Homo sapiens: one gene and its partners. The protein of the gene in region 1 interacts with the protein of each later gene in a pairwise test. Each region holds a gene or a part of one and is shown in the gene's direction. Other genes may lie near its edges.

Region 1 (5,848 bases):
AGAAGCTCAGACCTACTATATTGGCCAGTGGCAAAATCCAAGAATACATTTTTTGCGGTTAAAGCCAGAGTAGTCCTCACTTCATGTTTTTCAGGAAAGTAAAGGCTTATCTTGGGAAATCCCTTTTAGGCTTCCGTGTGTCCATCTACCCCCAGTCAGTCTAAAGGATATTAAATAGGGTTTACCTTCTTGGCCAGTGTTTTGTATAATGTGATTTCAGGATGACTTTCTCTTTTTCTAGTTATCTCCCATTTGACAGTACCTAAAATTATCTCTGTCTAGAAATGTAAATGTTTAGTTGAAGTAATTTATTGGCTGAAAAATAGTGACTAAAATGTGCATGCACAAGTCTATAAAGTATATTCAATAAGCTGTTGCCTACCATGTTGATAAAGGAGACTAGGAACAGAAAGGTAGGTTCATAAAGAGGGAGCAGTTGCTCTACCCTGGGGAAATGGCTGTGGAAATGAGTGGCGAGGGGCTTAAAGTAGGAAGCTTACTAAATTTAGGATTTTGTAAATCGGTGACCTTCTTACCTTTCCTTATTTAAAGATAGAGAAACGGTGTGTAAAGGGATGATTTGTATCCTGGACAGCTGGGTAATGCGAATTGGAGGAAAAGATCACACTAACCCAGCTTCACCTGATTTATGAATTGTTCTGTTTTCATTTTAATATAATGACTTCATTTTAATGTGATAACTTCATTTTAAAGGAGCTTCATTCTCAAAGGGTTCATTACTCAAGGTATTGTTATGTATTACTTTTCTTCTATGAAGTGTCCATGGACAGTTGTGGTAGATGTTTTTATGTAAGTTATTGAGTTTCACGTTACTGGCTGACTAGACTTTTATAGTTCAGAAACTTACCTCCTTCCAGCAAAGGTTCTTAATCGTTTATATACCTATTTATGACTCTTCTTTGGGAAAAATCTCCTTTGATAATCTAATGAAAGTCCCACTCCATGCAAGAAAATTAGTCATTTAGAAATAAATTCCATGCTATTACTTTTGGGGCAGTTTTTAAAAAATGAATCATTTTGTTTAAAGTCTCAGTTCGTTCAAATCTTTTGGTTCACGTATGTGTTTTTCTGTTGTGTACATTCTTCAGAGTCATATTCCTGTTTCATAGGCCCCATGTATGTCAGCTTTTAGTAGGTATCACCAGTAAGTTTTCCAAAATAATTGTACCATTTACTCTTTCTGTAAAAAGCATAGATATTTTGAATTTCTTGCCTTTTTTTCTGTGTTCACCTTTTCTTCTTGGAAGTAGACAGCTGGCTAACCAGCAGGAGTTTGGGACCGATGACAGTGCAAAACATCTTGACTGACAATGGTGGTGGCTTATTAAAGTGAAGAATCAGCATCAAGAGGGGGAATCGGTGTATTCCTTCTATTTCTAGGCCATTGGGATATAGGTCGTTATGGGACCCCAGGTAGTAACCCAGCTCATTCTGAAATAGAGCTGAGAAATGACAAGGATTAAGTGTTGCTTTTCAGGTAGAGTGCTATTTTGGACCCTTGGCACAGATTTTGGTTCTTTATTATGATAAGTACCAAGAAGGAAAAGAACTGGGTCTATTAGAGAAAATTAATGAGGGGGATTAATTAGTTTGGGATCTAAGACTTATTTGAGGTGGTGACATTTAAGCAGGATGCCGAGGGGTATTAGCCAGATGGAGAATGGGAGAGGGAAGGAGTTGCTCTGTATCTCTTCAAGCTTGAAGAAATGGCATGTGCAAAGGTGTTGAACAGCTTGAGATATCACCAAACATCCTTATCCAGGTCCAGGAACTTTATCCCAGATACCATTTCTGTTATTTGTTGCTTTCTATAATATTTTAAATTAACTAAATCACACACATTCTCTTTTTCATCATTACTTGGTAAGTGGAATGTTTTGATTTTCCCTTCTGGTTATGATTTACATGTATTAACTTATTAATACACGAAGATCAAAAAGTGACCAAAATTGTTCAAAAGGTACAATTTATTATAGGATAATTATAATTATTTCATGCTGACAATATGTTTATAAGTGTTTTGCAGTAACCTTTTTGTTTCTATAATTTCATGGTAAGAAAGAAAATGAATTAGGTAGAGCTAGTAATACCAGGTATAGACAAGAATGTAGTATTTAAAGCTAATATCTGAAATTCTCTTCTTGCATCTGCTAACTGAACGAGAAAATTCTGTGTGTGAGAATGGAAAACTTTGGGTGAAAAGTGAAAACTTGGATTTTGTAGTCCAGGCCCTTAATTAAGTAGATAACACACTCAGAAGGAGAAAATTTGGGGTGCTTTATATACAAAGGGACTATTTTTAGAGGTGTGTGTACAGGGATCTGGTGCTGCTTCATTTTTTAACCTGTTTATTGCGGTATGATTGACATACAGAAAGCTATAGACATTTAATGTATACAGTTTCTGTTTGGAGATAAGTAGATATTGTGAAACCATCCAACCATTATTACTACAAGAAATCAATGCCATCACCTTGAAAAGTTTCCTTCTACTCATCTTTTTTTCACGTTTTGTGATAAGAGCACTTAACATTAGATCTAACTTCTTAGCAAAATTTTAAGAATACAATATTGCTAATCACAGACACTGGGTTGTACCTGCAGATCTTATTTATTTTGCCTAACTGAAACTTTGTACCCTTTGAACAACAGCTTCCCATTTTGTTCTCCCCATGTTCCCTTACAACCACCATTCTATTCTCTGCTTGCATGTATTTGACTATTTTAGATTTCACATACATTGAGATAATACAGTATTTGTCTTTTTGTGTTTAGCTTATTTCACTTAGCATAATGTCCTTCAGGTTCATCCATGTTGTTGCAAATGGCAGGATTTCCTTCTTTTTTAAAGGCAAATTTGTTTATTCTCACATTTTTGTTGGGGTCCCTAAGGTTTTCTACATCTAAGATCATGTCATCTGCAAACAGATATTGTACCTCTTCTCTTTTTATTTGGATGTTTTTAATTTATTTTTCTTACCTAGTTATTCTGGCTAGGACTTAAAATACTACGCTGAATAGGAGAGGCTAAAGTAGGCAACCTTGCCTTGTTCCTCATCTTATGGGGAAAGCTTTCAGTTTTTTATCTTTAAGTATCTTAGCTGTGGGCTTCTCATAAATGGACTTTATTTTGTTTTTCCTTTACCTAATTTGCTATAAGGTTCTTCCATACCTAGTTTATTGGGAGTTTTTATCACAAAAGAGTATCGAATTTTGTCAAGTGCTTTTTCTGCATCTGTGCAGATGCCCATGTGAGTTTTATCCTTCATTCTATTAATGCAGTATATTACATTGGTTGGTTGTCATATGTTGAACCATCCTTGCATCACAATGAAAAATCCTACTTGGTCATGGTATATGATTCTTTTAATGTGCTGTTGTGTTTGGTTTGCTAACATTTCATTGAGGATTTTTACGTCTATATTCATCAAATGTATTAGACTGTAGTTTTCTTGTAGTGTATTTGTCTGGCTTTGGTATCAGGGTGATGCAGGCCTCAGAATGACTTTGGAAGTGTTCCCTCTTCTTTTTTTTTTTTTTTTAGATATGTTTAATAAGGTTTTGTATTAATTTTTCTTTAAATGTTTGCTAGAATGTATCTGGCTCTTGGCTTTTCTTTGTTGGGAATTTTTTGATTATTCCATCAATCTCCTTTTTTGTTATTTGTCTATTCAAGCATTCTATTTCTTCTTGATTCAGTCTTGGTAAGTTATATTTTTCTAGGAATTTACCCATTTTTTTTTAGATTGTCCAATTTGATGGCATATAATTGTTCATAATAGTCCCTTATGATACTTTTTATATCTGTGGGATCAATTGTGTCCTCTTTCATTTCTGATTTTGTTTGAGTCTTCTATTTTTAAAGTCTAGCCAAGGATTTGTTGATTTAGTTTGTCTTTTCAAAAGAGGAACTTTTAGTTTTGTCAATTTTTAAAATTGTTTTTCAATTTTCTATTTCATTTATTTCTAATCTAATCTTTATTATTTTCTTCCTTCTGCTAATTTTGGATTTAGTTTGTTCTTTTTCTAGTTCCTTGAGGTGTAAAGTTAGGTTGTTTTATTGAGACCTTTTTTTTTTTTTCTTTGAGACAGAGTCTTGCTCTGTCACCAGGCTGGAGTGCAGTGGCGTGATGATCTTGGCTTACTGCAACCTCCGCCTCCCGGGTTCAAGTGATTCTCCTGCCTCAGCCTCCCGAGTAGGTGGGAGTCCCAAGTAGGTGGGACTAGAGCCACGCACCACCATGCTCAGCTAATTTTTGTATTTTTTGTAGAGATGGGGTTTCACCATGTTAGCCAGGATGGTCTCAATCTCTTGACCTAGTGACCCGCCTGCCTCAGCCCCCAAAAGTGCTAGGATTATAGGCGTGAGCCACTGTGTCCTGCCTCTTTCTTCTTCTTAATGAATTTATTGCTATAAACACTTCTCTTATTCTGCTTTTACTGCATCCTATATGTTTGGGTATACTGTGTTTTTATTATTGTTTGTCTTGAGATATTTTATAATTTCTGTTTTGATTTATTCTTTGACCCAGTATTATTTAATAGTATGTTATTTAATTCCCCTGTATTTGTGAATTTTTCCATTTTCTTTCTATTATTGATTTCTAGTTTCATTCCCTCGTGATCAGACAAAATGTTTAGAATGTTTTTAGTCTTCTTAAATTTGTTAAGACTTGTTTTGTGACCTAGGCTGTGATCAGTTATAGAGAATGTTTCATGTCCTTTTGAGAAGAATGATTATTTTGCTATGGTTGGGTCTCATGTTCTGTATATGCATGTTAGGTCTTTGGTCTATAGTGTTGTATAGTTTGCAATTTACTTGTTGGTATTCTGTCCGGATGACCAGTACATTATAGACAGTGACGTATCAAAGTCTCCTTCTGTATTGTATTGATATCTATTTCTTCCTCCAATTCTATCAATATTTGCTGTTGGCATTCTGTCTGGATGACCTGTACATTATAGAGAGTGATGTATCAAAGTCTCCTTCTATATTGTATCGATATCTATTTCTTCCTTCAAATCTGTCAATGTTCACTGTATATTTTAAGGTGCTTTGATGTTGGGTGCATATGTATTTTTAGTTGTTGTATCTTTCTATTGAATTGACCCTTTTACTATTATATAATGCCTTCTTTGTCTCTTTTGACAGTTGTCGACTTAAAGTCTATTTTGTCTGATATAGATAGCCACCCTGCTCTCTTTTGGTTATAGTTTGCATGGAATATCTTTCTCAATCCCTTCACTTTTAGCCTACGTGTGTCCTTAAATGTTAGAGTCTCTTGTAGATAGCGTATAGTTGAGTGTTGTTTTTATTATCCATTTCAGCCATTCCATGTCTACTGAGAGCCCTTAATTATTAAAAATTTAAAGTAATAATTTTTAATAATTAAGTACTTAATTGTTTCCATTTTATTCATTGTTTTCTATTTGCTTTCTGTTTCTCCTGTTTTTCTCTTGTTTGTTGTCTTTGTGATTTGATGATTGTAGTAGAATGCTTTGATTTTTTTCTTTTTTTTGTTTATTTACTATACTTTTTATTTTGGTTACTATGGGGTTTGCATCAAATATTATGTAGTCATAGCAGGCTTTTTAAAGCTAGTAACAACTTCATTCATATTCAGAATCTCTACACTTCTCCCCCCTCTTCCTCACCAATGTATGTAATTGATTTCAGATTTTACTTCTTTCTATATTGTTTCTATTAACAAATTTCTGTGGTTGTTGTAGTTACTCATACTATTTTTGTCTTTTAATTTATATACTAGTGTTCAATGAGATTTACGTGCCACAGATTTCAGTATTGCAATATTCCATGTTTGTTTTCA
Region 2 (5,848 bases), on another chromosome or scaffold:
TCTGTTGCCCAAGCTGGTTGTTAACTCCTAGCCTCAAGCAATCCTCCCTTCTTAGCCTCCGAAACTGTTGAGATTATGGGTGTGAGCCGCTGTGCCTGGCCAAGGTCCTCTGTTTTTTTTTTTAAGTTATTTATTTGTTTAATTTTTTTTTTTTATGAGATGGAGTCTAACTCACTCTGTTGCCCGGGCTAGAGTGCAGTGGCACAATCTCAGCTTATTGCAACCTCTGCCTCCTGGGTTCAAGAAATCTCCTGCCTCAGCCTCCGGAGTAGCTGGGATTAGAGACGTGAGCCACCAATTTTGTATTTTTAGTATTTTAGTATTTTTGTATTTTGATTTTTGTATTTTTAGTAGAGATGGCGTTTCACCATATTGCCCAGGCTAGTCTTGAACTCTTGAGCTCAATTTATCCACCTGCCTCCAGCCTCCCAAAGTGCTGGGATTACAGGCGTGAGCCACCACATCCAGCTGGTCTTCTGTTTTAGTAACAACTCCCTGCTGTTCTTCCTTTAGACTCCCGAGGCTTGCCGACAGGCCCGAAGCTACCTTGAGTTTTCTGAGGACTCAGTGCAAGTGCCCAGGAACCTGGTTGGTGAGTTGGTGGTGTGTATATACAGTTAGAGGTCAGAATCAAGATTCTCTACAGTGATTCTGAGCTTTTATCCAGGATTGGCACCTCCCTGTGGACTCCCAGTTTCACAAGGACAGAGAAACAGTCTGTAATGGGAGTGATAAAAATGAAAGAATAAATTTCTAGGGATTGTAACATTTTGTCCTGTAAAAACACATCAGAAACCTAGAAGCAGGAGAATGAAGTAAATGGAATCCATATAAAGAAAATGAGGCTGGAAGACGGTGTATCAGCTTTATTCTTATTTCCTTAAAAAAAATAAAAGGCTGAATTCCTCATTTACCTATTCCAGGCAAAGTGATTGGAAAGAACGGGAAAGTGATCCAGGAGATTGTGGATAAATCTGGTGTGGTGAGGGTTCGAGTGGAAGGTGATAATGACAAGAAGAACCCCAGGGAGGAGGTATGGGTACGGGGCAAGTGGGCATAGAGATTGGTTTCCAGAAGTAAATGGGATTGTCCTCTGAGGGCTGGGATTGTTCTTTGAGAGGGTGGAGTACGGAAAGTTGTTTAACACTAGTAGATTTAGAGCCCAGAATGATCCCACTGGGCAGGCTCCCCTAGGAGACTGGGCGGCGTTAATCCTTCCATTTCATTTTCCTTTCTGATCCATCGTTTCTGCTCTCTGTTCTCTAGGGAATGGTTCCCTTCATTTTTGTTGGCACCCGAGAGAACATCAGCAATGCCCAGGCTTTGCTGGAGTATCACCTCTCCTACCTGCAGGTACCCAGGCCGGGAGAGAAAAATGCTGGGTGTGAAAAGGGAACTAAGACTGCTGTGGGGGTCAGCTCAGGGATTTTGGTTCTCTGTTTGTCTCTCCGTGTAGAACAGAAAACATCTGTGGAAATTTGGGGCTATAGGGTTGGGTCCCAGAATTTTCCTTGTTTAGCCAGTGTCTTCCTTCTCCCTGCATTCCTGAGAGGTTAGATATAGAGGGACAGTCAGGGTGCAGAAGCATGAAGCAAGGCACTGATCTTATTTCTCCTTCCCCTTCTTCCATCTTTTACCCAACCAGGAGGTAGAGCAGCTTCGCTTGGAGAGGCTACAAATTGATGAGCAGCTTCGGCAGATTGGGCTGGGCTTTCGCCCTCCTGGGAGTGGGCGGGGCAGCGGTGGCAGCGACAAGGCTGGATATAGCACTGATGAGAGCTCCTCCTCCTCCCTCCATGCGACTCGAACCTATGGGGGCAGCTATGGGGGCCGTGGCCGTGGCCGGAGGACAGGCGGTCCTGCCTATGGTGAGACAGTTATGGGAACAGGAGGCAAGGAGTGGCAGGGCTTGTGGGTAGAGGCAGAGGTCTGGATGGAAGTTTGGGGAAATCTGGAATGGAGATGATGAAAAAGTGATTGATTGGCTGGGAGGCTTGTGAGTGAGAAGGAGAATTCTTCCAGTTTGGGGGATGTGATGGATCCTGAGGTGGGATGAATGGCCGTGAATAAATCCCATTGTGTTCTTCAGGCCCCAGCTCAGATGTGTCTACAGCTTCAGAGACTGAGTCAGAGAAGAGAGAGGAGCCCAACCGAGCTGGGCCTGGCGACAGGGATCCCCCAACCCGAGGGGAAGAAAGCCGGAGGCGGCCGACTGGGGGCCGGGGTAGGGGACCCCCACCTGCCCCCCGGCCCACTTCGAGATACAATTCTTCATCTATTAGCTCAGGTACCAGACAGCTGGGTTCATGAATATGGGCCAAAAGGAAAGATGATGGGCACCTGACTGCCAACTCCTCCTCTTCTTCCTCTGACCAGTGCTGAAGGATCCAGACAGTAATCCCTACAGCCTATTGGACACGTCTGAACCAGAGCCCCCGGTTGATTCAGAACCTGGGGAACCCCCCCCAGCAAGTGCCAGGCGCCGCCGCTCCCGCCGCCGCCGCACTGATGAAGACAGGACCGTCATGGATGGAGGCCTGGAATCAGATGGGCCCAACATGACAGAGAATGGCCTGGGTGAGGGTGTGCCTGGGGTCTGGAAAGTTAGAGATGGGTAGGAATCGAGGGTGGGAGGTTGGATGTGTGACTCTGGTTTTTTCCTACCCTACAGAAGATGAATCAAGACCTCAACGTCGTAATCGCAGCCGCCGCCGCCGTAACCGTGGTAATCGGACTGATGGCTCTATCAGTGGAGACCGCCAGCCAGGTCAGCCAACTCTGGACACCAGAATCCTTCCTCAGAGCTGAGAGAATGGGATGCTCACCCCTGTGAAAATCAGGGGTTCGGGTTCAGTGGGTGTCTTAGGCTGGCTACCAGAATTCCATCTGAAAGTCTTAATCTCCTGCCTTCCCCAGTGACTGTGGCTGACTATATCTCACGAGCAGAGTCTCAGAGCCGCCAGAGGCCACCCCTGGAACGCACTAAACCCTCAGAAGACTCTCTTTCAGGACAGAAGGTAGGCAGGCAAGATGTGCTTTACCCCATCCCTTTTTTGTTGTTACTCTGGGGCAGGGGGCACAAAAAATTTCACAAATCTCCTACTGAATTGCAGAGGCAGCTGTGTCTGATGGAGTTTAGACCAGTGTAAACTTTGAATAGGATAGAGAAGAAAGTGTGGTTCACATTTTCTGGATCCCAAGTAAGAGAGACTGGATCATGAGATCAGGGAACCAACCTCTGGATCACCAAATGCCAGGAGGGCTTGGATGGTAGGGAATGTCTCCCACCTGAATTTCTACTCACCGCTTCTTGCTTTTCTGTTTTCTTTCCCACTTTCCCCTCAGGGTGACTCTGTCAGCAAGCTTCCTAAGGGCCCCTCGGAGAATGGGGAGCTCTCCGCCCCCTTGGAGTTGGGTAGTATGGTGAATGGGGTTTCATAAAACCTCCAACCTGCACCCCTCCCTTCTCCATCTCGCTTGCTGCCCAACACCATGGCCCTCACAGGCCCAACTGACCTGCGCTGGAGCTGCTCTTATCTAGGGGGGAGGGGGGTGGCACAGCAGCTTGGGTACCCCCCAACCTCCAGGAGCTAGTGGAGGGGTGTGTAACAGGGTCATACCCCCTCCCTCTTGTCCACCCTACCCCCAGGGTAAGGGGAGCCTCTCTCCTTCCCCATCAGACTGGATGTGCCTTTATCCTCTAATGCCCCAATCTCTCTCTGAACACCCCCATTCTCCACCTGTTGGTGGGGGGTGCTCCTCGACCCACCCAGATTTGACCGTTCAGGGGGCCTCCCCTGCTATCCCTCCTCCCATCCTGTACCCCCCATTTCTGGGGCCTCATCACTGTGGAAGACGGGGATAGTAAGAGATAAGTGGGTGGGAGGCACGGGGAAGGTTTTGGAGTAGAACCAGGGGTGTGTATGAAGGGGGGTGACAAGGTCCCCCTGGGGAGGGGACCAACCTTGTCTGGTGGATGAGAAGGCGTATTTATTTTTCACTGTACAGTATTTAAAAAGAGAATAAAAAAATCCAAATGGCTGTCTGGCTCCTGTGCCTTCTTTGTCCCCAGTTTGGTCCATTTGTTTCTCTAGGACTGACCTGCCCTGGCCCCTGGCTCTTGTTTTCTGTTCCTCCACATCTGACTTCTCTTCATTGTCTCTTGTCCCAAAGATGGTCTTACTTCTGGGAATTCCTGACATTCCTAAACTCCCCAGGCCCAGGTTCTCCCTCCTGGTTCAGAGGAGGGGGGCTTGTGCCTTGTTGCTTCTCCCCTCCCCCAAGTTTGCTGGTAGAGGGAGTTGGGCCACTCCTATACCCTGAGTCACAGCACAGGCTAGGCAGGGCTGCTCAGAGCTGGAGCTGTTCCTGTAGAAGCTGAGAGCCAAGGCAGGCTGCTTAATCCGATTACCTGAGGCCTGGGGCTTGGGCTGGGCCGTTGGGCAGAGTGGGGAGCAGGGTTCCCTCACAGCAGCCTCTGGAGCCCGGGGTCCGGCCTTCTTGGTGGTGTTCTGTTCTGGCTCCAGGCTTTTTCTCCGGCATGCGCATCACAGACCTCTTAACTTGGGGAGTTGTCCTGGGTTTCCTGGCTCCCCCCTCATGACTTGGACGACTGAAGCTAAAACTTGCCATAATTCAATAGCAGTGGAGAAATATAGGTTTAGGGACTGGAGTTGGGAGGGCTTAAGTTTTCTCACTTGGGAAAGGGGTTGAATCACGGCCCAAGCACCTGCTGGAATGACTCAGGAAACAAAAATGGTCTCCCTCCTCGGCCTTTCTTGCCCCAGGGGCAGTTCTGGGATTTGAGGAGCAACAGGCACCAGGAAAGGGGTTGGGGTGGTGGTCCGGGATGCTCCCAAGCTCCTCTCAGCACAACTCGGGCCCTGAGGGCACTTCATCCCCCTGTGTTTGATCCCATTGTGGAAAGAATTGGCTTTAAATTGCCTGTGCTTCAGGGAGGGGAGGCAATCAGCAACGGGCTGGAAGGCCTGACATCAGGTCTTGGGTGGGGGGGGCGGGGGGCGTGGCACCCTGAGGGTGTTGGGGGCTGGGACAAACAGGACACCTGGGTTTACCTACGGGCTGAGGATGTTGGCGCCCTTAAGGAGGTGCAGTCTTATGGGAGGGACAGGGGCGGAGTCAGTCTTTAAAAGCTGTTCCCAGGTCTGGCCCGCCTGCCACAAACGCTGAGCCCAGGTGGGAGAGGTCTGGCCTATCCGCGCCTGGCAGCTGTCGGAACTCCGGAGACCACAAAGGGGTTTATGGTTTACCCCCTCCACGGAAGGTCGGTCTGATCGCAGCTGCGGGTCGGGGAGAGGGACCGGGGGTCCCCCAGTCAGTAGGCCTCAGAACACCTCTTCAGTGCCGGGGCACCAGACAGCGGATTTTGCATTCGACTCTCCCCAAAGTGTGCCGAACAGGTTGGAAGCAAAGGCTCCGGTTTAAGCTCTGGGCTTGGGGATAAAATACACTTTTTAAGGACCCAAGTTCCTCGGCAACGACTCCAGACTGGGAAGACCTTTCCATTTTCAGGATCGACGCTTCACGTTGAGGGGAGGGCATTCAGGACGCCCTCTTAAGGCTTCTCCCAACCCATGGCGCTACCAGGCTCCTCACAGGACCAGGCCTGGAGCCTGGAGCCTCCGGCTGCCACGGCTGCTGCCTCCTCATCTTCGGGACCCCAGGAGCGGGAGGGCGCTGGGAGCCCCGCGGCCCCCGGGACGCTGCCCCTGGAGAAGGTGAAGCGGCCGATGAACGCGTTCATGGTGTGGAGCTCCGCTCAGCGCCGCCAGATGGCGCAGCAGAACCCCAAGATGCACAACTCCGAGATCTCCAAGCGCCTGGGCGC
Region 3 (5,848 bases), on another chromosome or scaffold:
AAGTTTGGTAGTACTTTTTGGCCGTTTGATATTTAACTCCGTTTCTTTTTTTTTGAGACGGAGTCTTGCTTTGTCGCCCAGTCCGGAGTGCAGTGACGTGATCTCAGCTCACTGCAAGCTCTGCCTCCTGGGTTCACACCATTCTCTTGCCTCAGCCTCCTGAGTAGCTGGGACTACAGGTGCCCGCCACCACGCCTGGCTAATTTTTTTTTTGTATTTTTAGTAGAGACGGGGTTTCACCGTGTTAGCCAGGATGGTCTTGATCTCCTCACCTCATGATCTGCCCGCCTCAGCCTCCCAAAGTGCTGGGATTACAAGCGTGAGCCACCTCGCCTGGCCCTAACTCTGTTTTTTTCTTTTTTTTTTTTTTTTTTTTTGAGACAGAGTCTCACTCTGTTGCCCAGGCTAGAGTGCAGTGGCACGATCTTGGCTCACTGCAACCTCCACCTCCCGGGTTCAAGTGATTCTCCTGCCTCAGCCTCCCGAGTAGCTGGGACTACAGTCACATGCCACCACACCCAGCTAATTTTTTGTATTTTTAGTAGAGACAGGGTTTCACCATGTTCACCATGTTAGCCAGGATGGTCTTGATCTACTGACCTCATGATCCGCCTGCCTAGGCCTCCCAAAGTGCTGGGATTACAGGCATGAGCCACCGCGCCCGGCCCTTAAACTCCCTGTTTCTAAACAACATGTTTTTGTTGCTGTTTCTTATTTTATCTCTCGTCAGTTTTAGACGTTGTTCAGACGTATATGGCACAGGCAGCTGTACTTCTCCAGTGGCCCCCACACCCTCACATGCCCTCACCTGGCTCCCCCATCTCCTGGCTGTAGGTTGTTAGAATTTGTGGTGAGACCAGTGATGGGACTTCCATTGGGCAGCTGTGTAGGTACTTTAACACTGAGCCATGCCACCTGCTGTGCTTATATGACCTCTTTGGAATAACTTTGTGTATTTCTTAGAGTTACTCATGGCCCTGTTTGTTGGCTTTGTTTTCTGCATTCGACCCTTGTCTCCCCAGCTGGGCTTTTCCTTGTGGTCTGTCAGGCTGTCTACCCTGACAGTTCTGTGTGTGCTTTCTTTCCGCAGAGCCCTCTGTCCTGGAGGCCACAGTCCTGATTGTTTCCATGCCAACTGCACACTTGTTGCCCTGAGGTTTTCCTGGGATCTCCTTTCACCCCTCTTCAGTGTGGGACCCTCTTCCCTGAATCTTAAATGTCTTCTTTTTGCCCTTGCTCTCCTGTTTTGATAGAGCCTTTCCTTTGGTAGGTTCCTGAAAAAAAGGCACATAGGAAGGTAGATTTTCTTGGCCAGGCACGGTGGCTCATGCCTGTAATCCCAGCACTTTGGGAGGCTGAGGTGGGCAGATCACCTGAGGTCAGGAGTTCGAGACCAGCCTGATCGACATGGAGAAACCCCGTCTCTACTAAAAATACAAAATTAGCCGGGTGTGGTGGCGCACGCCTATAATCCCAGCTAATTGGGAGGCTGAGGCAGGAGAATCACTTGAACCTGGAGGCGGAGGTTGCACCTGGAGATCGCACCATTGCACTCCACCCTGGGCAACAAGAGCGAAACTCCATCTCAAAAAAAAAAAAAAAAAAGAAAAAAAGGAAGGTAGATTTTCTTGTAACATTGCATGTCTGAAAATGTGTTTGTTCTAGCCTCATACTCAGCTGATAGTTTGGTTGGGTATAGAATCCTAGGTTGACAATTGTTTTCACTCAGGAAGTTGGCGACATTGCTGCCTTGTCTCCTAGCTTCCACGTTGCTGCAGAAAATCTGGTGCCGTTTGGATTCTTGGTCCTTTATATGTGTGATCTATTTTTTTTTTGTTATTCCTATTCAGAAGCTTTTGAGATGTTTCCTTTATCTCTGAAGTTTTAAATTTCATGATAATGTGTTTTGGTGTGGCAATTTTTTTTTTTTTTTTTTTTGAGATGGAGTTTCACTCTTGTTGCCCAGGCTGGCGTGCGATGGCGCGATCTTGGCTCAACACAACCTCTGCCTCCCAGGTTCAAGTGATTCTCCTGCCTCAGCCTCCCGAGTAGCTGGGATTACAGGCATGCACCATCATGCCCAGCTAATTTTGTATTTTTAATAGAGATGGGGTTTCTCCATGTTGATCAGGTTGGTCTCAAACTCTCAACCTCAGGTGATCTGCCCGCCTTGGCCTCCCAAAGTGCTGGTATTACAGGTGTGAGCCACTGTGCCTGGCCTGAGATTTTTTATTCATTATGCTGGGCACAGGTTTGTTTTTTTTGTTTTGAGATGGAGTTTCGCTCTTGTTGTCCAGGCTGGAGTGCAATGGCACGATCTCAGCTCACCGCAACCTCCGCCTCCCGGGTTCAAGCAATTCTCCTGCCTCAGCCTCCCGAGTAGCTGGGATTACAGGCATGCGCCACCACACCCTGCTAATTTTTTGTATTTTAAGTAGAGACGGGGTTTCTCCATGTTGGTCAGGCTGGTCTTGAACTCCTGACCTCAGGTTCATCCACCCGCCTTGGCCTCCCAAAGTGCTGGGATTACAGACGTGAGTACCACACCCGGCCTGGGCACATGTTTTGCAAGACTGAGATAGCTGTGTTTTTTTCCTTAGGTACAGCATCTTGACTAGGGAATACAGAGAGTTATTTTATTGTGAAATGTAACATATATTCAGGAAATGAATGTGCAACAATTATAGATTGCTTAACAAATATTACCAGGTGAACCTCTCTGTTGTCTGCTACCGAGATGGAGAAATCAAGCCCTTTGGCACCTGAAGGCCTTTGTGACCCTCCTAGTCATGACACCCCTCCCCAACCAAGGGGTGACCATCCTGAGTTTGGTGACAGTCACCTTCCACCTTTAACAGTAGTTTTCTTTTTTTTTTCTGAGACGGAGTCTCGCTTTACCATCAGGCTGGAGTGCAGTGGCACGGTCTCGGCTCACTGCAACCTCTGCCTCCTGGGTGCAAGTGATTCTCCTGCCTCAGCCTCCTGAGTAGCTGGGACCATAGGCACGTAACACCATGCCCAGCTAATTGTTGTATTTTTAGAAGAGACGGGGTTTCACCACATTGGCCAGGATGGTTTCCATCTCTTAACCTCGTGATCCTCCTGCCTTGGCCTCCCAAAGTGCTGGGATCACAGGCGTGAGCCGCCGTGCATGGCCTTCAACAGTTTTCTTTTGTTTTTTTTTTTTGAGATGGAGTCTCACTCTTTCGCCCAGGCCGGACTGCAGTGGCGCTATCTTGGCTTTCTTCAAGCCCCGCCTCCTGGGTTCACGCCATTCTCCTGCCTCAGCCTCCCGAGTAGCTGGGACTATAGGCACCCGCCACCACGCCCGGCTAATTTTTTGTATTTTTAGTAGAGACGGGGTTTCATCAAGTTAGCCAGGATGGTCTCGATCTCCTGACCTCGTGATCTGCCCGCCTCGGCCTCCAAAAGTGCTGGGATTACAGGCGTGAGCCACCACGCCTGGCCTAGTTTTCTTACCCCTCTAAACTGAAGGGTTAAGAGTTGTGTCTGTTTCTGCTCTTCATATTAATGGAATCATCCAGTATGTTTTCTTTTGTTTCTTGCTCTTTTTGCTCCGTGTCACCTTCTCTGGGAATCATCCGTGTTGCTGTGTGTGGCTGTAGTTTGCTCTTTTTGTTGCTGAGTAGCACTCTGTTGTCTGAAGGGACCACAGCTTATTTCTCCATTTTACTGAGGATTGGACATTGGGGTTGTTTTCTGTTTTCTGCTCTTATGAATGTTTCCCGTGTGGATTTCTTTAGGTGACATAAGGTTTGTTTAGGGTATTTAAGAGTAGTGTGTTCTTTCTTGACTGCTCTACCGGAAAAAAAGAAAAGGGAAAAAAGAGTAGTATGCCAGGTCATAGGAAAGGTGGCTACAAGTTATTCATACAGGATGTTTGAGAGTCGAAGAAGGCACTGTGACCACTTGCTGTGTAACATTCAGAGCTGGGACTGTCCTGGGCACGTTGCCGTAAAGTCTGCACATTCACACGATCCCAGACTGTTTGTGCAGAACGGTTCTGCCCACTTGCGCTCCCACCAGCACAGCGTGAGTTCATGTCAGCCTACATCTTTGCCACAACTTGGCGTTGGCTGACTTTAGTTGTTGCCAGTCTGGTGAGCACATCATGGTGTCTTGTGCAGGGCTAGCTTTTCCCCCATTTCTCCATCAGATAAGAAAGCAGAGATTGACATCCTGGCTGCAGAGTACATCTCCACGGTGAAGACGCTGTCTCCAGACCAGCGCGTGGAGCGCCTGCAGAAGATCCAGAACGCCTACAGCAAGTGCAAGGAATACAGTGACGACAAAGTGCAGCTGGCCATGCAGACCTACGAGATGGTGAGGGCGGGGCGGGGGCCATGGCTCTTCCTCTGACCTCTACTCCTGCCTCTCATGCAACAAAATGTAAAAACTGCCCGGAAATGGGCATAGCCAAGTGGAAGGCTGGCTTTGGTAGCTGACGCTGCTGGAGGAAGTGCAGACGGAATACACTTCATGTAGGACCATCCCTGTTTTTTTTTTTTTTTTTTCTGGGCCCTTTTTGTTTGTGTATCTGCTCGGAGGAACCATTTGGGTTTTTTTTGAGACAGTCTCACTTTGTCGTCCACGGTGGAGTACAGTGGTGTGATTTCAGCTCAGTGCAACCTCCGCCTCCTAGGCTCAAGTGATTCTTGTGCCTTAGCCTCCCTAGTAGCTGTGATTACAGGCATGCAGCACCACACCCAGCTAATTTTTATATTTTTAGAAGAGACGGGGTTTCACCCTGTTGGCCATGCTGGTCTCGAACTCCTGACTTCAAGTGATCCACTCGCCTCAGCCTCCCAAAATACTGAGATTACAGGCATGAGCCACCGTGCCCGACCTCCAGGTGGCCATATTTTATTTTATTTATTTATTTTATTTATTTATTTATTTTTGAGACAGAGTCTTGCTCTGTCGCCCAGGCTGGAGTGCAGTGGTGTGATCACGGCTCACTGCAACCTCCACCTCCTGGGTTTAAGCGATTCTCCTGCCTCAGTCTCCCGAGTAGCTGAGATTACAGGCATGCAGTAGCCATACTTTATTATTATTATTATTTTTGAGATGGACTTTTGCTCTTGTTGCCCAGGCTGGAGTGCAATGGTGCTATCTCGGCTCACTGCAACCTGTGCCTCGCAGGTTCAAGCAATTCTCCTGCCTCAGCCTCCTGAGTAGCTAGGATTACAGTCACCCACCACGAAGCCTGGCTAATTTTTGTAGTTTTATTTTTTTATTTTTGTATTATTTATTTAGTTTTTGAGACAGGGCCTCACTGTGTCGCCCAGACTAGGGTGCAGTGGCATGGCTGCAGTTCAGTGCAACCTCCACTTCCCAGGCTCAAGCGATTCTCCTGCCTCAGCCTCCTAAGTAGCTGGGATTACAGGTGTGCACCACTACCAACAGGCTAATTTTTGTTTTTGGTTTTTGGTTTTTTTTTTTGAGACAGAGCTTCGCTCTTGTTGCTCAGGCTGGAGTGCAATGCCACGATCTTGGCTCACTGCAACCTCTGCCTCCTGGGTTCAAGCGATTCTCCGGCTTCAGCCTCCTGAGTAGCTGGGATTACAGGCATGCGCCACCAAGCCCGGCTAATTTTGTATTTTTGGTAGAGATGGGGTTGCTCCATGTTGGTCAGGCTGGTCCTGAACTCCCGACCTCAGGTGATTGACCTGCCTCAGCCTCCCAAAGTGCTGGGATTACAGGTATGAGCCACCGTGCCTGGCCTGTATTTTTAATAGAGATGGGGTTTTGCCATGTTGGCCAGGCTGGTCTTGAATTCCTGACCTCAAATGATCCACCTGCCTCGGTCTCCCAGAGTGCTGGGACT
Region 4 (5,848 bases), on another chromosome or scaffold:
ACTTGAACCCAGGAGGTGGAGGTTGCGGTGAGCCGAGATCTCGCCGTTGCATTCCAGCCTGGGCAACAAGAGTGAAACTCTGTCTCAAAAAAAAAAACAAACAAAAAAATTGGTTATTGATGTATCCCATCTGGGTACACACAAGTTACTAAAGGAACCACTGATTTCCTGCTGAACTAAAATGTAACATTTTTGTTATCTTCCAATTTCCCACATACCTGTCTGGCTTCATCTGTTCCTCTGTCAACAACTTGTTGGTTTAATTGCAGCGGCTTCCTACCCACCCTTGGCTCTGATTCCTGGCAAGGCAGTCCCCACCCTCTGTTCTTTCCAGTTAAATTCTTGGCTATTCTCTAGCATCCATTCTTCTTATGAATTCTCAAGTAGTTGTAGTCATTCCTTTAAAAGACTTCTGTTGGAATTCTAATTAGAGTTGCATTGCGCTAACACAGAAGTGTGCTCACACACACATTTGGAGGGAATGGGCATTTTTGGAGAACAGCAGCACGGGGGAGGGTTGAAAGTCAGTCTCTCTCCAACTGTGTTTCCCTGTCCTGTTCTTCAGAGGCAGGCAGTTAGTTTATTGTGTATCTTCCTGAAAGTTGTCTGTGCAAATATATACATGTATCTGATGTGTGTTTTTTTTGTTTTGTTTTGAGACAGAGTCTCAGCTGAGATGATCTCAGCTCACTGCAACCTCCACATCCTGGGTTCAAGTGATTCTCCTGCCTTAGCCTCCTGAGTAGTTGGGATTACAGGCACCCGCCACCACACCCAGCTGATTTTTGTTTTTGTTTTTGTTTTGAGATGGAGTTTTGCTCTTGGTTGCCCAGGCTGGAGTGCAATGGCATGATCTCGGCTCATCGCATCCTCCACCTCCTGAGTTCAAGCAATTCTCTTGCCTCAGCCTCCTGAGTAGCTGGGACTACAGGCGTGCACCACCACACCCGGCTAATTTTGTGTTTTTAGTAGAGACGGGGTTTCCCCATGTTGGTCATGGCTGGTCTCGAACTCCCAACCTCGGGTGATCCGCCTGCCTCGGCCTCCCAAAGTGCTGGGATTACAGGCATAAGCCACTGCACCCGGCCTGATTTTTGTATTTTTAGTAGAGACGGGGTTTCACCATGTTGGCCAGGCTGGTCTCAAACTCCTGACCTCCGGTGATGTGCCTGCCTCACCCTCCCAAAGTGCTGAGATTACAGGTATGAGCCACCGCGCCCACCTATATCTGATGTTTTATAGACACTGAGATTATGATGTCCCTTGACTTCTGCCCCCAGCCCTGACACCTATTTTGTCACTCTTAAAGCACCCTGTTTGTTGTGGTGCCCATCTGAGCCAAGCATGTGAGGGGATTGGTTGCTTTGTTATACCACGTTTTTCTGGAGTGATCTACCACCTTTGGTCACCTGGTTGGTTTCTGTATCCCTGTCACAGTATCTTCTTTTTGATGCTCCAGAAGACTGCGAACCCTATCCTGTACAGGACCAAATGTGTCAGGAAAGCTCTTGCCCCGCTCCCCCTTTTTCCCAGCTGTTTGGGTGTGTGTCAGATACCTTTGCTTACCTTGTCCTGTTACGTTCCAGCACCAGCCCCACTACCCCAAGCATCCCCTTCTCACTTGATGACAAGTCTTCCTTCAGCTGCTCAGACCAGATCCCTAGGCCACTGTTGACTCAGTTTGTCCAGAACTGACCACTTCCATGCCTCCCCTTCAAATACCTGGTTGAACCTGGTGCCACATTGGGGCACTAGGGCTGCCTAAGGGTGGGGTGAGGGGAGTCTTATTGTCACCCTGGTGGCCAAGGCTTTCTTAATTGGGAGGGTGTTTGGGGAAGCAGCTTGGCCTGATGCCTGTATCCCCCACATGACTTGCGGACAGTCTGGTACTTGTGTGAGGGCCTCAGGTATAGAACACACAGAGCCTTGGTGAGCTGGTATCCTTGTGTATGGCAGGACCATGGGCCGGGACCAGGGTGCAGCAAGTGCCTTGCACCTGGTGTTCAGAGAGCCCAGTACTAGCTGGGCAGGCCCAGGAACTGTGTGTTCAGGGCCTGGACAGGCTCCTGAACCATAGGGTCAGAGTTCATGGGGGAGGCAAGGCAGACCAAGGCTGCAACAGTAGCAGCTCCTTGCACCTGACCTCAGTGTGCCCCTCAGTGACTCTGAATGAGGCCCAGGGATCCCCTGAGGGCCCCCTAGGAAGTTACGGTCTCAAGGCCATGCCCCTCACTTGCCCCCTCCTCTTCCTCAGCCCCATAGGCTCCTTCAATTTCCGTGATCCTCGGAGTCCCCAGGAGACCAGGTGATGGCAGCAGCCAGACTCCTGCCAGTGCCGGCAGGACCCCAGGTAAGCTGTCCCCAGTGCTTATGCAGTGCCCCCAGCCCGAGCCCTGTGGTTCCTTCCGTGCCCCGTAGAGCTCCTAAGAGCAGCCAGAGCGTCACCACATGCCCTGAACTCCGCGGCCCCTTCCCATCACCCACCTCAGCTCACAGAGCCCCCCACTGCCAACTGCTCATGTCACATGTCACATGCACCCACTCCCCATCACAGACATCAGGATTTGGTTTTACCTGCAGCAGCCCCTGTCGTTCCAGGCCAAGCTGACCTTCGAGGATGTGGCTGTGCTCCTCTCCCAGGATGAATGGGACCGCCTGTGCCCTGCTCAGAGGGGTCTCTACAGAAATGTGATGATGGAAACCTATGGGAATGTAGTCTCATTGGGTAAGCCACCTTAGCAGGCCTCGTCTATGTATCTGCGTATTGGACTGGGGTGGGGGCTTCTCAGGGTACGGGGCCTGGGACAGGCTGGTCCTGGAGGTTTGCTCTCATCACCTCTCTGGGTGCTCAGCTCCAGCAGAAGATCAGTCCTGTCCATTTTCATGTCCCCACAAGTGGCTTGGGCAGGGGGAGGGGGCTCTGTAAATGTTGTGTAAACAAAGACTTCCCTCCCCACGAGCAGGACTTCCAGGATCCAAGCCTGACATAATCTCCCAGCTGGAGCGAGGGGAAGATCCCTGGGTCCTGGACAGGAAGGGGGCTAAGAAGAGCCAGGGCCTGTGGAGTGACTACTCAGGTGAGTGAGGAGAGCTGGCCCCTCCCTCACTGAGGGCTAAACAGGTCCTGAGCAAAGCTGTGGACCTAGTTCATACTGTGCCGCTCACTGGAGTGGCTTCCACCTGGAGTAAAACCTTATCTGGCCTTATCTGGCAAAGGAGTCTATAGACTGGGGGTTGCTGAATCAGGTGGCAGCCCATGGCTGGAAGTGAGCATAGCAGTGAATTTCAACAAGCTGATGTGCAGAGCCATGTAGAGGAAGTTAGGGCATGGCTGCAGTGATTCTGTCCCTGACCAGAGGGACTGGTTAGCCAGATTTGGTCCTAATAGGACATTCAGGTTTTGAGAGTTACCTGATGATTTAGAAAATAACAAAGCATCCTAAATGTGGAAAGGAAGTGTCTCAACCTGACACTTAAGGTGAAGTGCTGAAAGCACACTGTTTCATCTCAGAACAAGACAAAGAAGCCCGCCATCCCCATGTCCATATAATGTTGTACTGGGTATCCCATGTACAAAATAAGGCAAAACCGGCCAGGCGTGGTGGCTCAAGCCTGTAATACCAGCACTTTGGGAGACTGAGGCGGGTGGATCACGAGGTCAGGAGATCAAGACCATCCTGGCTAACACGGTGAAACCCTGTCTCTACTAAAAATACAAAAAATTAGCCGGGCATGGTGGCATGCACCTGTAGTCCCAGCTACTCGGGAGGCTGAGGCCTGTAGTCCCAGCTACTCCCAGATTCATGGCGTGAACCCGGGAGGCAGAGGTTGCAGTGAGCTGAGATCGCTCCACTGCACTCCAGCCTGGGGGACAGAGCATGAGACTCTGTCTCAAAAAAATAAAAATAAAAATAAGGCAAAACCAAAGCTATAAGAATTAGAAAGAAAAAAGCATTGTTTGCAGTTTATGTGATTGTCAACCTGGAAAATGATTGATTAAAATTCACAAGGGAAATTACCAGTTTTGCTGGATACAATTTTTTTTTTTTTTTTTTTTTTTTTGAGACAGTCTTGCTCTGTCGCCCAGGCTGGAATGCAGTGGCATGAGTCTCGGGTCACTGCAAGCTCCGCCGTCTGGGTTCAAGCAATTCTTACGCCTCAGCTTCTCGAATAGCTGGGATTACAGGTCCATGCCCCTATACCCAGCTAATTTTTGTATTTTTAGTAGAGACAGGATTTCACCATGTTGGCCAGGCTAGTCTCGAACTCCTGACCTGAAGTGATCCACCTGCCTCAGCCTCCCAAAGTGCTGGTATTACAGGCATGAGCCACTGCACCTGGCCAGAAATGTTTTATTTATATTTGTCAGCAACCAGCAAAGGTGTAATATTTTAAAAGATAACATTTATAATAGCATCAGGAATATAAAGCATCCAAGAATTAATCTAACAAAAGATGTACAAGACCTTTAGATGGAGAAAATTATAAAAAGAAAGATGGTGCATAGATCCAACCCTGAAGTTCATGTTTGCGGTTGCTTAAGGCAAAGAACCTCTGACTTCAGTAAGGTGACGTCTGAGTCTTAGGAAAACCTCAGTCAGCCTGTCCTGCCATAATGTGCCCCACTTGGGGAGAGTAGGGACAGTTTGGGCAACACCTCCATTGGCTGATCAGCTTCAGCATTTCAGATGTGGTGGTTTTCCCCTTGAAAGCTCCTCCTTATTTCTAAAGTAGCTTTATGTGGATAGGGCACCAGGTATTACAGTCTACCTCTTACTGGCCTGCAAAATCAGATATCCTCAGAGGAACAAGGTACATGCCAGCCTTAGAGGAATTTAATTTTCCAGTGACTATACAAGAAGACACATCATCATGTCTTGGAAATCTTGCATAGAACTTCTGCTTACTGACTGCAGCTGTAGGAGACAAGAAAACACAGGAGGGCATTTTGCTGCCACTGCCAAACCAGTCCTGGGCTCCCTTGTGTCCAGCTATGTACTCGCCTGATGGAGAGCTTAAACTGCCTTTGAGCGCCCTTTGATTTGACACCACAGAGACTGTGAAATTCTCTGGGAGCATGGCTGGTTGGAGATGAGAAGTTTTTTCATGGAAGCACCTGGTCCCCTCACCTCTAACACAGGCCACAGAGGACGATGGGACTGAGTTTTAGATTACTGATGTGCATAGAAACAGAAGCCACCTGCCACAACCTGGATCACTGCCACTAGCATCAGAGCAAGCGAGGAGTAGATATGCCTTTGTCTTGTCCTGGCAGTTCCTCAGGATGGATAAGTGTGTGCACCTGCCCAGCCCTGACCCTGCTGTTTGTAACTCAGTAAATTACATGTTGTAATAGCAACGAAAGGATTTTCCACTCTTTTTTTTTTTTTTTTTTTTTTTTTTTTGAGAGACGGAGTTTCACTCTGTCCCCCAGGCTGGAGTGCAGTAGTGTGATCTCGGCTCACTGCAACTTCTTGTCTCCGGGGTTCAAGCGATTCTCCTGCCTCAGCTTCCCTAGTAGTGGGGACTACAGGCATGCACCACCATGTCCAGCTAATTTTTGTATTTTTTAGTAGAGACGGGGTTTCACTATATGTTGGCCAGGCTGGTCTCAAACTTCTGACCTCAAGTGATCCACTCACCTTGGCCTCCCAAAGTGCTGGGATTACAGACGTGAGCCACCATGCCCGGCCAGGATTTTCCACTCTTGAAGGGAGTATTTTGTTGTCACTTCAACTCGCTGTTTTTTTTCCAGACAACCTCAAATATGACCACACTACAGCCTGTACACAACAAGACAGTTTATCTTGTCCATGGGGTAAGTGTATGCCTGATCTTTTTAATTCAG

Evidence for each region.
Region 2: the proteins of CEP44 (region 1) and FXR2 interact in binary tests that used the Homo sapiens proteins (3 or more experiments, as listed by UniProt).
Region 3: the proteins of CEP44 (region 1) and ING5 interact in binary tests that used the Homo sapiens proteins (3 or more experiments, as listed by UniProt).
Region 4: the proteins of CEP44 (region 1) and ZNF250 interact in a two-hybrid assay, tested with the Homo sapiens proteins (one large-scale study listed by BioGRID and IntAct).

The regions. Positions count from the first base shown.
Region 1 is NC_000004.12:174,285,750-174,291,597, forward strand, and holds part of CEP44 (centrosomal protein of 44 kDa), read left to right. Parts: intron 1-5,848. UniProt on the Homo sapiens protein: Centriole-enriched microtubule-binding protein involved in centriole biogenesis. In collaboration with CEP295 and POC1B, is required for the centriole-to-centrosome conversion by ensuring the formation of bona fide centriole wall.
Region 2 is NC_000017.11:7,589,423-7,595,270, reverse strand, and holds the end of FXR2 (RNA-binding protein FXR2), read left to right. Parts: intron 1-513; coding exon 514-592; intron 593-923; coding exon 924-1,033; intron 1,034-1,266; coding exon 1,267-1,353; intron 1,354-1,645; coding exon 1,646-1,868; intron 1,869-2,089; coding exon 2,090-2,287; intron 2,288-2,376; coding exon 2,377-2,577; intron 2,578-2,671; coding exon 2,672-2,767; intron 2,768-2,916; coding exon 2,917-3,017; intron 3,018-3,113; coding exon of another isoform or gene 3,114-3,149; exon of another isoform or gene 3,150-3,205; intron 3,206-3,345; coding exon 3,346-3,441; 3' UTR 3,442-4,041; downstream 4,042-5,848. Other genes in the region: SOX15 (transcription factor SOX-15), read left to right, coding at 5,595-5,848. UniProt on the Homo sapiens protein: mRNA-binding protein that acts as a regulator of mRNAs translation and/or stability, and which is required for adult hippocampal neurogenesis. Specifically binds to AU-rich elements (AREs) in the 3'-UTR of target mRNAs.
Region 3 is NC_000002.12:241,705,039-241,710,886, forward strand, and holds part of ING5 (inhibitor of growth protein 5), read left to right. Parts: intron 1-4,177; coding exon 4,178-4,344; intron 4,345-5,848. UniProt on the Homo sapiens protein: Component of the HBO1 complex, which specifically mediates acetylation of histone H3 at 'Lys-14' (H3K14ac) and, to a lower extent, acetylation of histone H4. Component of the MOZ/MORF complex which has a histone H3 acetyltransferase activity.
Region 4 is NC_000008.11:144,886,810-144,892,657, reverse strand, and holds part of ZNF250 (zinc finger protein 250), read left to right. Parts: intron 1-2,254; 5' UTR 2,255-2,308; coding exon 2,309-2,350; intron 2,351-2,583; coding exon of another isoform or gene 2,584-2,598; coding exon 2,599-2,725; intron 2,726-2,963; coding exon 2,964-3,077; intron 3,078-5,755; coding exon 5,756-5,818; intron 5,819-5,848. UniProt on the Homo sapiens protein: May be involved in transcriptional regulation.